Homo sapiens: one gene and its partner. The protein of the gene in region 2 interacts with the protein of the main gene of each other region in a pairwise test. Each region holds a gene or a part of one and is shown on either strand. Other genes may lie near its edges. The genes, in order: KLRC4-KLRK1 and RAET1G.

The links.
Region 1: the proteins of RAET1G (region 2) and KLRC4-KLRK1 interact in binary tests that used the Homo sapiens proteins (3 or more experiments, as listed by UniProt).

The regions. Positions count from the first base shown.
Region 1 is NC_000012.12:10,407,095-10,415,032, forward strand, and holds the start of KLRC4-KLRK1 (NKG2-D type II integral membrane protein), read right to left. Parts: upstream 3,053-7,938; 5' UTR 3,005-3,052; intron 2,664-3,004; exon of another isoform or gene 2,482-2,663; coding exon of another isoform or gene 2,295-2,481; intron 1,917-2,294; coding exon of another isoform or gene 1,818-1,916; intron 1,289-1,817; coding exon of another isoform or gene 1,235-1,288; intron 696-1,234; coding exon of another isoform or gene 559-695; 5' UTR 542-558; exon of another isoform or gene 290-541; intron 1-289. Other genes in the region: KLRC4 (NKG2-F type II integral membrane protein), read right to left, coding at 559-695, 1,235-1,288, 1,818-1,916, 2,295-2,481.
Region 2 is NC_000006.12:149,916,196-149,920,240, reverse strand, and holds the end of RAET1G (UL-16 binding protein 5 preproprotein), read left to right. Parts: intron 1-424; coding exon 425-688; intron 689-732; exon of another isoform or gene 733-916; coding exon 917-1,198; intron 1,199-1,856; coding exon 1,857-2,067; coding exon of another isoform or gene 2,068-2,242; exon of another isoform or gene 2,243-2,716; coding exon of another isoform or gene 2,717-2,768; exon of another isoform or gene 2,769-3,166; coding exon 3,167-3,329; 3' UTR 3,330-3,363; downstream 3,364-4,045.

The DNA of each region.
Region 1 (7,938 bases), on a different chromosome or scaffold from region 2:
GAAAAGCAACAAACAACAGCTAACTGCATTATTGCACAAATATCATATAGGAGTAAAAGAAGACACACATGAAAATACACATTGTATGATTCCCTTGACATAAATTCTGGAACAGGCAAAGCTTATTTATCACATTAAACATCAATACAAAGGTTTGGAGAGGAGGCAGGAAAAGTGAGGAAGGCATACACAGGAGCAGGACTGCTGGGGCTGGAAACTTCTATTTCATGATCTGCCCTGTATCATGAATCCATTCACTTTGTGATCAATATGCATGACCATGACATGCTTAGTTTTCTTTATATTTATTTTGTGATAAAAACATTTATAGAAGCATGGGTTTCCATGAAAAGCAAAACTGGAAATAACCAAATGTGCATTAACAGTATATGAATATAAAAATATTATGAAGTCAGTTGAATACTACACAGACTTAAAAATATATGAAGTAAATATATGTATAAACATATGGATGATTTCTACAAATATGATATTGACAGAAATAAGCTTTTAGTAAAGTGTTGAAACATTTACGTCTTACCATTTCTTCCTCATTATCTATAGAAAGCAGATCAGAGTTCTTCGAAGCACAGGCCAGCAAACTCTTTCTTCCCAAGTTCTTCTTTCCTTACCAATGTAATAACAACTGTTGGAATATGTAATCCACTCCTCAGGACAATGGCCACAATGACGTGCTAAATAAAAATATGAATTACTATGCAAAACAATATGTTTACAAATGAAAATTATTTTATATATTTGCAAAGCTATAAACATACAGGTACACAATATCTGCATCCTCATAAGTTGTTAAATATATATTTTAAAATAACGAGTCACTCATACGCACATGCACAATAAAAGGTCCACCTCTCATCCCTTAATTGTGTTCCCATACAAAACAAGCCCGCCAACAAAAATCCACCCTACACATCTTAAACATCACTGAACAAAACTGCTTTTTAAGTATAGTAAAATTATTTATCTCTTATCATCTTATAGTAGTAGGAAATTTCAGTTAATTAAATGCAACAAGAGGGTATAATGATTTTAACTGAGCATTTCTACTTATTATTGGAGAAAAGGACATGCCCTCATATAATCTTTATTTTATAAACATTTATGGCTCATTGTTATAGTTTATTTTCCCAAAACATTTTATTATCATTTTGCATCCCTTTAGAGACAAAATATAAACTGTACTAACATCAGAACATTGACAATCATAATGTACCTTTCTGCATTCTTCTATTCAGGGAAAAATTGTTCTGCTCCAGTACTCCAATACCTAGAAAAATTAAAGTGATTCTTACAAAATTAATATCTAGACAAATTATAATAAATTCAGTTGCTTACTTTGAAATACAAAATTTAAAATTATTTTAAATTGGAACAATCTGAAATAAAAATGACTTTTCTATAAAAATAATGAGATCTTTAAAACAAATATTTTTAAAGCCATTAGCATAAAACTTCACCATCTCTTATAGTATTTGATCTAACCACTTTCAAAAATTAATTTGTTTTTCTAAATATTTTTTCTCTTAAAACATGTCTTTGAGTCATGAAATCAGAATACATCTCTCTGTGTGTGTATCATATATACATATATATTTAGTACACACAAAAAAATAAATGTTTTCTACAATTATTCTGTTATTTATAAATTTGAAAAGTTCAGAAGCAGCATATTATCTTGGGGTTCAGAGATATACATTAAACAGAGAATTCTAATCCTCATTATTATGAAATGTTTCAAGGCGCTTCCAATCATTATAGTGAAAAGTTCCCTTATAATCTTTCAAGAATATGCTTACAAGGAATAAGAACTATTGTTTTTAACACAGTGGCCATCAGGACAATGCAAATGATTCCTAGGACCTCAGCAGTGAGCTTCTCTGGAGGTGGCAGTAAACCTGCAGGGAGAGAAAGAGGCACTGAGAGAGGGGAGATAGAGAGTTGATGAGAAGGTTTACGTACAAGAGAACTCACGTGCACAGGAAAACATAATGATAAACTCTGTCCTCTAAATCTACATCTACTCTAGTAATCTTTCTCTCAGAATATACCATTTCATTATCAGTAAATATAATGCTCCATGAGTTGTTAATCACAAATTACAATTGAACAATGCCTGAATAAAATCAGGCTTCAGATTTCATATTAGAATATTAGATCCTGACTTTGACCTCTGATTCTCACAAGTGCAAAATATTCCCTAATCTTTCCCCACCTTTCTGCATTCAACTGCACATCCTAGAACAATAATATTGAAGATCTATTTAATGTTTTACCTTTGCAGTGATATGTCTTGTCATTCCCTTGATGATCCGAAGAAGCATTTTGAAGGTTTAATTCTACTTGGAATATTTCCTGTTTGGTTCCTGAAATGGAGATTTTATTGCCCTTAAGTTTCCTTTGCTGCCTCTTTGGGTCCTGGGCCAGACTCACTTCTGAGTAGGTTCCTCTTTGTTTATTCATCTCTGCAGCTGTGTGATGTCAGGGACTGTGCTCTATGATAACTGCACTTAAGAAGCTATAAGTGGTGTATATTTTGACAGGATCCCTGGTATAGGCAAACTGCATGTGTTGGAGGCTGAGTAGTAATGTTCATTTTGCTGTTGACCAATATAAAAGTCTGGTACTAATTTCCTAAAGTTTTAAACTGAAATCTCTTTAAACAATAGGTCACTTTTTAAAAGGCCTTCTATATTTGACATAATATTATTAATGGGAACAATAAAAAACAATACATTTGTGAAAACTAAGAAGTAACTGAATATAAATATCTTTATTAATTTAAAATCAGATTCTACAGAAATATTTTATCACCAATAGAATACCTGTGTAAAAAACTAAAATTGAAATTTGAAAATAAAATGCACTAATTGTATGACAATTTTAAAATTCATTAATGTAAGGATTGAGCGCTAAAGATGGAGGAATAATTTGTTGGCATATAGAACAACTTTTAATACTAAAATACATTAAGTTAGTGACTTACATTCGTTTACTAAAAGGGCATGAGGTCTTGGCAAATGTTTTTTATTCTGAATGATTGAGGAAAACAGAAAAATTGTTAAAATTTTAAAGAAATATTTTATACCTTGTAAAACATTACATTAACTTATGCATAAACTAAATACTACTGAAAAAGATTTAACTCTTTATTTTACAGAATTGATTGGTAATTGATTTAATGACTAAAATAGGAAAACTGAAAATGATAAATATAAGTTTGGACCATCTATGAAAGAACACTTTAAGTTCAAACTTTCAGAAAGACCCTGTGGTTGTTTTAAAAGGCAGCGAGGGTCACTTTGGTTGTGTAAGTAATTGTAATAAATCAGAAAATATAATTTAATAATCTAGTCAATGAGCTCTGTAGCCAGTGAGACCTAAAATTAATTACAGCTTTGAAACTCATAATGCATGACCTTTACAAAGTTACTTGGTGTCTACAACACCAGTTTACTAATCTAGATTGGGGAAAATAATTTATGAAGTATAATGTATATAAAACCCTTAACATACAACCTGGCACACATTAGTCCTCAATACATATTAGATATTTTAATTATTTTTAACACAATTGCCATTTTATTATTTCTAATTCATACTGAGTGTGTAAAATAACTAATGAGGTAGGAGTCTCATGTCAGTGTAGTACATCTTTTTTGCAATGTTTGTTTGGCTCAATTTTTTTTAGGTCGTCCTATTATTTATAATTAAGTTTAGATTTGCATTTTATGGAAACTACTTCATTATTACATTCTTAAAAAAATAAAATCTGCTTCAATTAAATATAAGTATGTGTATGAGAAATTATGTTTGACATTCACAATTTGATGTATCCATTAAAAATGCATTTTTAAAGTCTGGGCTAAATATAAAGTATTATTACATCTATAATGATTATAAAATTTCAAATTAATTCTTCATTGTCGTGATATTTATCGGTTTCACTCTAAATTATATTGATTAACAAACCTATTATGATGTATGCATGTGCTTGACTAATTCTCCACAGGCAATAATGTAAATACTTTAAGAAATCCTCAAACATATATTATATTTTGGGTTGCTTTTCACCCTGAATTATTCATGTACAGACAGTTCTACTTTGATTTTATTCTGTATTAACTTTACCTTGTTGCATCACATTTAATATTTACAATTTTCTACTAAAGGAGATGAGCTAGTAGAGAAACAGGAGACTAGCAACACATACCTTCTGTCATCAGAAAGTCACACGCCCCTTAGTGGAGAGGTCAGGTTACCTCTTAACGACACAAAAGACATCTGTGATCCGGTGAAACCCCGTCTCTACTAAAAATACAAAAACTTAGCCGGGTGTGGTGGCGGGCGCCTGTAGCTGCTTGGGAGGCTGAGGCAGGAGAACGGTTGAACCCGGGAGGCGTAGCTTGCAGTGAGCTGAGATCGGGAGCCACTGCACTCCAGCCTGGGCGACAGAGCGAGACTCTGTCTCAGAAAAAAACAAAAAACAAAAAACAGATATCTCTGATCTTCACAGACTGCCCTGTGAAAGCTCAGAGTGAGGCAAGAGTGCAAAAAGCAGATTCCTCATCAATGTATCACTTCGGATTTGAACAGGAAGTTTTCACACTAGGGCCATTTTGAATCAGTTTATCTCATCATACACCTCAGAATATAAGAGACTGAGCTGCTAGGGTGTCATTTAGTTTGTCCATTTTCAAGTGACTTTTAGAAATTATTTTTATAGTAAACAAGATTTGGGGAGAACAAAGACTACTACCCATGCAGTTGTTTCCATCTCAATCACAAACACTAAAATCTTATACCTTTTTCAGAGTCTCTTACATGTTTAACTTCTACATTTACACAGGGTGGCTAAAACTTGGGATTACGTACTTCTTTATCATATACCCCTATAATATCACTGCTAATATGACGATAAATTTTTAAAATAATAATCTTACCAATAGGAATTTAATGTATTTGTCACTAATTATTCTGAGAAAATACATTTCCACTTCATTGTAATTGACATCAATTCTCAAAGTTAAATTCCCAACTTACTTTCTTGATAGTTCTTAAAATTCTCTCATTCAGTTTTTTAAAAATAAATTAATCAGATAACTCTCATTGAAATATATGTCTCTGGGAAGAATAAATAATTAAAAAATATTGTACTATATCACCACGCCAGAGATTGAAATATATAAAAACCACTCATTATATTGTTCATTGATTTATTTTCCAATCATAACGGTCTGCATTTTAATATTAATATTTGTTGTAAATGACTAATGCTTAAATCAAACTATATAGAGAGGGAAAAGTAATTTTTAAAACATCATCTAGTTAAAAATAGGGAGGGCAGAAAAAGTAGATTTTTAAAACACAAGCTAAATGGTACATGAGCACTCAGGGGCGGTGGCTTGTGTCAGTAATCCCAGCAACTTGGGAGGCCAAGATGTGTTGATTTCTTGAGCTCAGGAGTTCAAGACCAGCCTGGTCAACATGATGAAACCCCGTCTCTACAAAAAAATACGAAAATTAGCCAGCATGATGGTATTGGCCTGTAGCCAGCTACTCTGGTTGCTGAGGTGGGAGGATCGCTTGAGCCTTGGAGGTGAGGTCGAGGCTGCAGTGAGCCGAGATGAAATTTACTGAAATTGGGGAAATATACTTCATAATGATAAATTAATTTTCCAAACCATTAGTAATATATTTTTTATCATTGCATATACCTAATGATACAAGTTCAACATATAGTTGAATAAAGTGAACAAGTAAACAATCATAAATGGGATTTTTAAAGACTCTTCTCTTGATGCTTAATACAAGACAGGCCAGTGAGCCTATAGAAAGATTTAAACTAGACAAGTAACCATCACTCATATGAATGCATTCACACACATATACTCACACGGATACTCAATTTCAATGTAGTACCGCTAGCCAAGCTTGGCTAGGAGACAGTTGAAATGTAGCTATTCAAATTTAACATTAATTAATAAAAATAAATAACATTTAAAACCAGTACCTCACCACATGAGCCACATTTATAAAGGGATGAAGAACATTTCCAGTTTAATAGAAAATGTTCTAACTATATTTTACCTACAACAGAAGTCAATAAACAAAAATCTGAGAACCTTATATGGTTTTTAATTCAGTAATATATGTCAAAATAACATATGGGCCAAAGAAATTATCAAGATGAATGGTCACAAAGGACTACTAAGGGAAGATTTTGAAAAGGCACAGATATTTTATTCCCAGTTTAAACATGGCAATACCATTATGGTCTTTACAGTTATTAAACAGGCAATAAAACTATATTATCAATGCATTTTAATGTCCATATGAAATAGAAAATTCCTGGGAAATGCTCATTACCAAAATATAGTACCTCAAATAGAAATCTGAGTAAACCCTACATGTATTGAAGAAATTCAGTTTAGCCATAAACTTTTCTACAAAAATAGCCTGCAAACTCAGATGGCATAACTAGTGAATGATAACATTTAAAAATAAAGCGGTACTCTTTATTATTATTATTATATTTTAAGTTCTAGGGTATATGTGCACAACGTGCAGGTTTGTTACATAGGCATAGATGTGCCATGTTGGTGTGCTGCACCCATCAACTCATCATTTACATTAGGTATTTCTCCTAATGCTATCCCTCCCCCAACCCCCCACCCCCCGACAGGCCCCGGTGTGTGATGTTCTCCTCCCTGTGTCCATGTGTTCTCATTGTTCAATTCCCACCTATGAGTGAGAACATGCGGTGTTTGGTTTTCTGTCCTTGTGATAGTTTGCTGAGAATGATGGTTTCCAGCTTCATCCATGTCCCTGCAGAGGACATGAACTCATCCTTTTTTATGGCTAAAGCAGTACTCTTAACAAATGCTTCCAGGTTATAGAGAAACAGAAAATCTTCCCAAGATAGCCTTGAGACCAAAACTTTTTCAAGTACATAGCTACAAATAAAAACGTGGTCAAATATCCTTGTGAACATAGATGAAGAAACATATCTTACCCTAGATATAGTAGTATGTGCACTGATATTTTATAAGGGGCAATATACAATGATCAGCATGGATTTGTTTCGGAAACAAAGCCTAGTTTAACATTTGACAAAAATAAAATTATTTTATAAAATGTTGTATAAAGAAAACATATATCATTCTAAGTAATAAAAAATAAAAATGTTACAATTGATAACATCTATTGAAAAAAGGAATATTATAAAACCACTTCAATATAAGAAAGATATGATGAAAAAAACACCAAACTTTGTAAATATGAATAATATGTTGAATTATTTTTTGCCAAAACCAGAAAATGATACATATGATACATGTAAAATTTGATTGTACCTTCTATTCAACTCTGGATATAAAGTACTAGCCAGAGAAAATAAATGAAGAAAAAATAAGTTGTGGCACATGGATAGAAAAAATAAAAGTGTGATTATTTGCAGGACACAGGCAGGGGAACATCACACACAGGGGACTGTTGTGGGGTGGGGGGAGGGGGGAGGGATAGCATTAGGAGATATACCTAATGCTAAATGACGAGTTAATGGGTGCAGCACACCAACATGGCACATGTATACATATGTAACAAACCTGCACATTGTGCACATGTACCCTAAAACTTAAAGTATAATAATAATAAAAAAAGAAAAAAAAAGAAAAAGAAAAGAAAATAAAATTGCTGTTTATATAGAAAATCCAGAAAAATCTGTTTGAAATGATAGATTTAAATATGTAAAATAAGTGAAAATGCAGACATCAGTTGTATTTCTATTTACAGTAACAAAAGTTATTAAAGGGAATATTAAAATCAGAATGCTATTTACAAAAGCATGAATGTAAAATATCTGCATTTCTGTATGATTCAAACCCCCAAAATACATAATATGATAGAGAGAAATTAAAG
Region 2 (4,045 bases):
GTTCCATCCTCACTCCGTCCCACCATGCACCAGTATCCTCAGGTGCAGCTCCCACACCCTGTCCCACCTCCCACAGTCCACGTGGGCTACTGCTGAAGATCCTCTGTCATCCAGGCCCTTCCTCCTCTAGCACTCCTGGCACCTCTCTAGCAAGGTCCTGTGTTGACCGATGTGGACAGAGGGGCAGTGGGACATGTCTGGGGACATGTGGTTTCTCAGCAGGCAGGGACCTCCTCCTCCTCTTTGCCCTCATGGAAGTGGGGAGCACTCGCCTTAATCTTGTGGACACCACAGTTCTGGAGGAGGCACTCCTTGCTGGGCCAGCCCAGCCCTCCAGAGGCTTCCTCTTATTGTCACAGTGTGGAGGAGGGGTATCTAGGGGTCTTTTCCTCCCCACCCACCCCTCACCTGCCTTTCTCCACAGACCCTCACTCTCTTTGCTATGACATCACCGTCATCCCTAAGTTCAGACCTGGACCACGGTGGTGTGCGGTTCAAGGCCAGGTGGATGAAAAGACTTTTCTTCACTATGACTGTGGCAGCAAGACAGTCACACCCGTCAGTCCCCTGGGGAAGAAACTAAATGTCACAACGGCCTGGAAAGCACAGAACCCAGTACTGAGAGAGGTGGTGGACATACTTACAGAGCAACTGCTTGACATTCAGCTGGAGAATTACATACCCAAGGGTAAGTTTCAGATGGCCCAGGACAGCAGGGAGCAGATACAGTGGTAGGTTAGAGGCATTTATAGTTTTCATGTAAAAATACAAATAGGAAGGTCATCTCACCCCGCAAGACGTCTAGAGGCAAGGCCAGGATGTGGCAGAGCAAGTAAGACCAGGAAATTGCAAGTGGAAGAGGATGGGGGCTCAATATCTGTCAAGGCCAGAGCTGATCTCTCTTTGATGGGGGCAGAACCCCTCACCCTGCAGGCCAGGATGTCTTGTGAGCAGAAAGCCGAAGGACACGGCAGTGGATCTTGGCAGCTCAGTTTCGATGGACAGATCTTCCTCCTCTTTGACTCAGAAAACAGAATGTGGACAACGGTTCATCCTGGAGCCAGAAAGATGAAAGAAAAGTGGGAGAATGACAAGGATATGACCATGTCCTTCCATTACATCTCAATGGGAGACTGCACAGGATGGCTTGAGGACTTCTTGATGGGCATGGACAGCACCCTGGAGCCAAGTGCAGGAGGTAACAGGAGAAAAAGAAATGGGGATCTCCAATGAGATCAGAAATGGGGATCTCAAGAAACTAATTCTTGAGTTCAGCTTCAATCATCCCAGTGTACACGTTTATGTTAAAATGACCTCCTCGTGGGGTGCTCCTCCTGGGGGTGCTGGCGTGCCTGTGCTCTCCCACCCTCCTCTTCCTTCTCCCTCCTGACTCCTCTTCCTCACTGCACTTGCTTCTGTTCCCCACACTGTGGATTTCTCACCAGCCTCGAAACTGCAGGTGTCACTATTTTCAGGCCTTTCTCCTTAGTGTTCCCTCTTGAGAATCACTTTTCCTTTCCTCCTCTGGTCTGTTTCTGGAAATCCATCAAAACCTCCTCCAAGGCCAGCCTCGTGACCCTCCCCTCCCGCACCCTGGAGCATCACCTCCTCTTCCGCCACAGCAGGAGGGTGGGCTTTGCTGTCACCTTGCTTCCCTCAGCAGCTCTGTGAGCTCCCTGAGGCCAAGGGACACCCCCTCTCCCTTCCTACCCCAGGAACTCTCCCAGGGGCTGCCCCATAGCAGAGGGGACAAAACCTCTGCCTTCCAGGATGACCTGGGTCAGCAGGAGCTGAGGAGGCATCTCCTCAGATTTGGGGCCTGGACAAGGGTTGTCACTCTTGTGCTTCCATTTCAGCACCACCCACCATGTCCTCAGGCACAGCCCAACCCAGGGCCACGGCCACCACCCTCATCCTTTGCTGCCTCCTCATCATGTGTCTCCTCATATGCTCCAGGCACAGTCTGACCCAAAGCCATGGCCACCACCCTCAGTCCCTGCAGCCTCCTCCTCATCCTCCCCTGCTTCATCCTACCTGGCTGCTGAGGAGAGTCCTTTGGAGTGACAGGTATGGGGGCAGAATTGGGAGTGGAGCAAAGGGCAGGTGGGTGAGGAGGGAGGACAGGGATGGAGAATTCCCAGAGTCCCACTCCCTATGGCTGGGACCTTCTCATCCTAACATGAGACAGGTGAATGAGACCTTGTGTTGCTTGTTGGAAATGACCTGGGCAGCTCTGCCCTGAGTTCTGATGGATTCTCACCATCAAAGGCCAGAGGGAAAGGCGCAGTGGTGCCATACCAAGGCTCAGGGTCTGTTGAGCTTGAGAGGGTTTAGCAAGTTCAGGCCTGATTCAGAGCAGGTTTCTGTTCAGGAAGGGTGTGTGGCCTGCAGGCAGCAGGAATTCAGACATGGGCAGTCCTCTTAATTGGGTTAGGTGCATCAGGGTAGCTTTACATGAGGTATGACAAGGGAAGGGGGATTCCATCTCTGAGGCTAAGAGAGAGATATGTGTGGGCGGCAAGCCACCCAGGTGCCAAGGCAAGAGACTGAAGGCACAAGCTGTTCCAGTATAATAAAGAAAATACTTAAAATAAGAATAGTTGTATTAGACGTAGAATACAGACATGATTATCTATGAATATTATCAATCATTAGTCTGTAGTGTTACTCTTTTTTCCAATGTTATAATAATCTCTGTTCCACAATTATAACCCAGGAAAAACCAGGCCATGCAGAGACAGGAGCTGAAGGGACACGGTGAGAAGTGACCAGAAGACAAGAGTGTGAGCCCTCTGTCATGCCCAGACAGGGCCAGTAGTGGGCTCCTCAGTCTAGCAGTAGCGCCAGTGCCTGGGAAGGCACTTGTTACTTAGCAGACCGGGAAAAGGAGTTTCCCTTTCCCCGGGGGAGTTAGAGAAGACTCTGCTCCACCACCTCTTGTGGAAGGCCTGACATCAGTCAAGCCTGCCCGCAGCCATCCGGAGGCCTAAACGTCTCCCTGTGATGCTGTGCTTCAGGGTCACGCTCCTGGTCCACTTTCATGTTCCGCCCTGTACACCTGGCTCCGCCTTCTAGATAGCGGTAGCAGAATTAGTGAAAGTATTGAAGTCCGAGAAATACATAGAAGAAACAATGACGTAAGCTGTCCTCTCTCTCTCCGCCTCAGCTACCAAATAGCGAAGCGCCCCTTGTCTGGTGGACACGTGACTCGCGTGACTTTACCTATCATTGGAGACGACTCACACTCCTTACCCTGCCCTCTTGCCTTGTATACAATAAATAACGGCGCAGCCAGGTATTCGGAGCCACTACAGGTCTCCATATCTTGATGGTTCCCTGGGCCCAGCTGTCTTTTCTTCCGTCTCTTTGTCTTGTGTCTTTATTTCTACGATCTCTCATCTCCGCACACGAAGAGAAAAACCCACAGGCCCTGTAGGGCTGGTCCCTACAACTATGAGTGTAATCCCAGAAGGAGGGGGCTGGGAGAGCCTTGGTACACCTAATTGAAAAGGAGGGGGCGCAGGGCTGCCTTCCCACAGAAAGTGGCTTGGGTTCCAGGAATTAAGGTGGAAGGCGAAGAGTAGAGGCTGCACATGAAAAAAATTTTTAAAAAGTCAGTCCCATGGACCCATGGGGTTCGAGTCCAGACCTTGAGGCAGCTCCCTTGCCATCACCTTCCTGCACACCCCAGATCCTGAGCCCGCTCATGGCCCTGCCAGGAGCAGAGTGGACTCAGACACGGGGGACCTGAGCTGCTGCTTAAGTCCATGGGCACCACTGGGCTGGACCAGGAATGAATAAGGTGGAACAGGGACAGTCACCTTCAGAGCTATGGGTGCTGATTGCAGTGTGAGGAGAGGCTGAGGAAGAAGGGGAAGGAGGAATATTTGCCTGCAGGCCCACCCAATGCCAAGGACACAGGAATACAGAGCCCTCTCTTTGGATGGGCTCCCCCTACCCCTTGCCATGTTTTAGGCCTTCTCATCAGATGGTAGAGAGGGCCTTGAGTGAGGGAGCAGGCCCATCACTACCAGCTTCAGTCTTG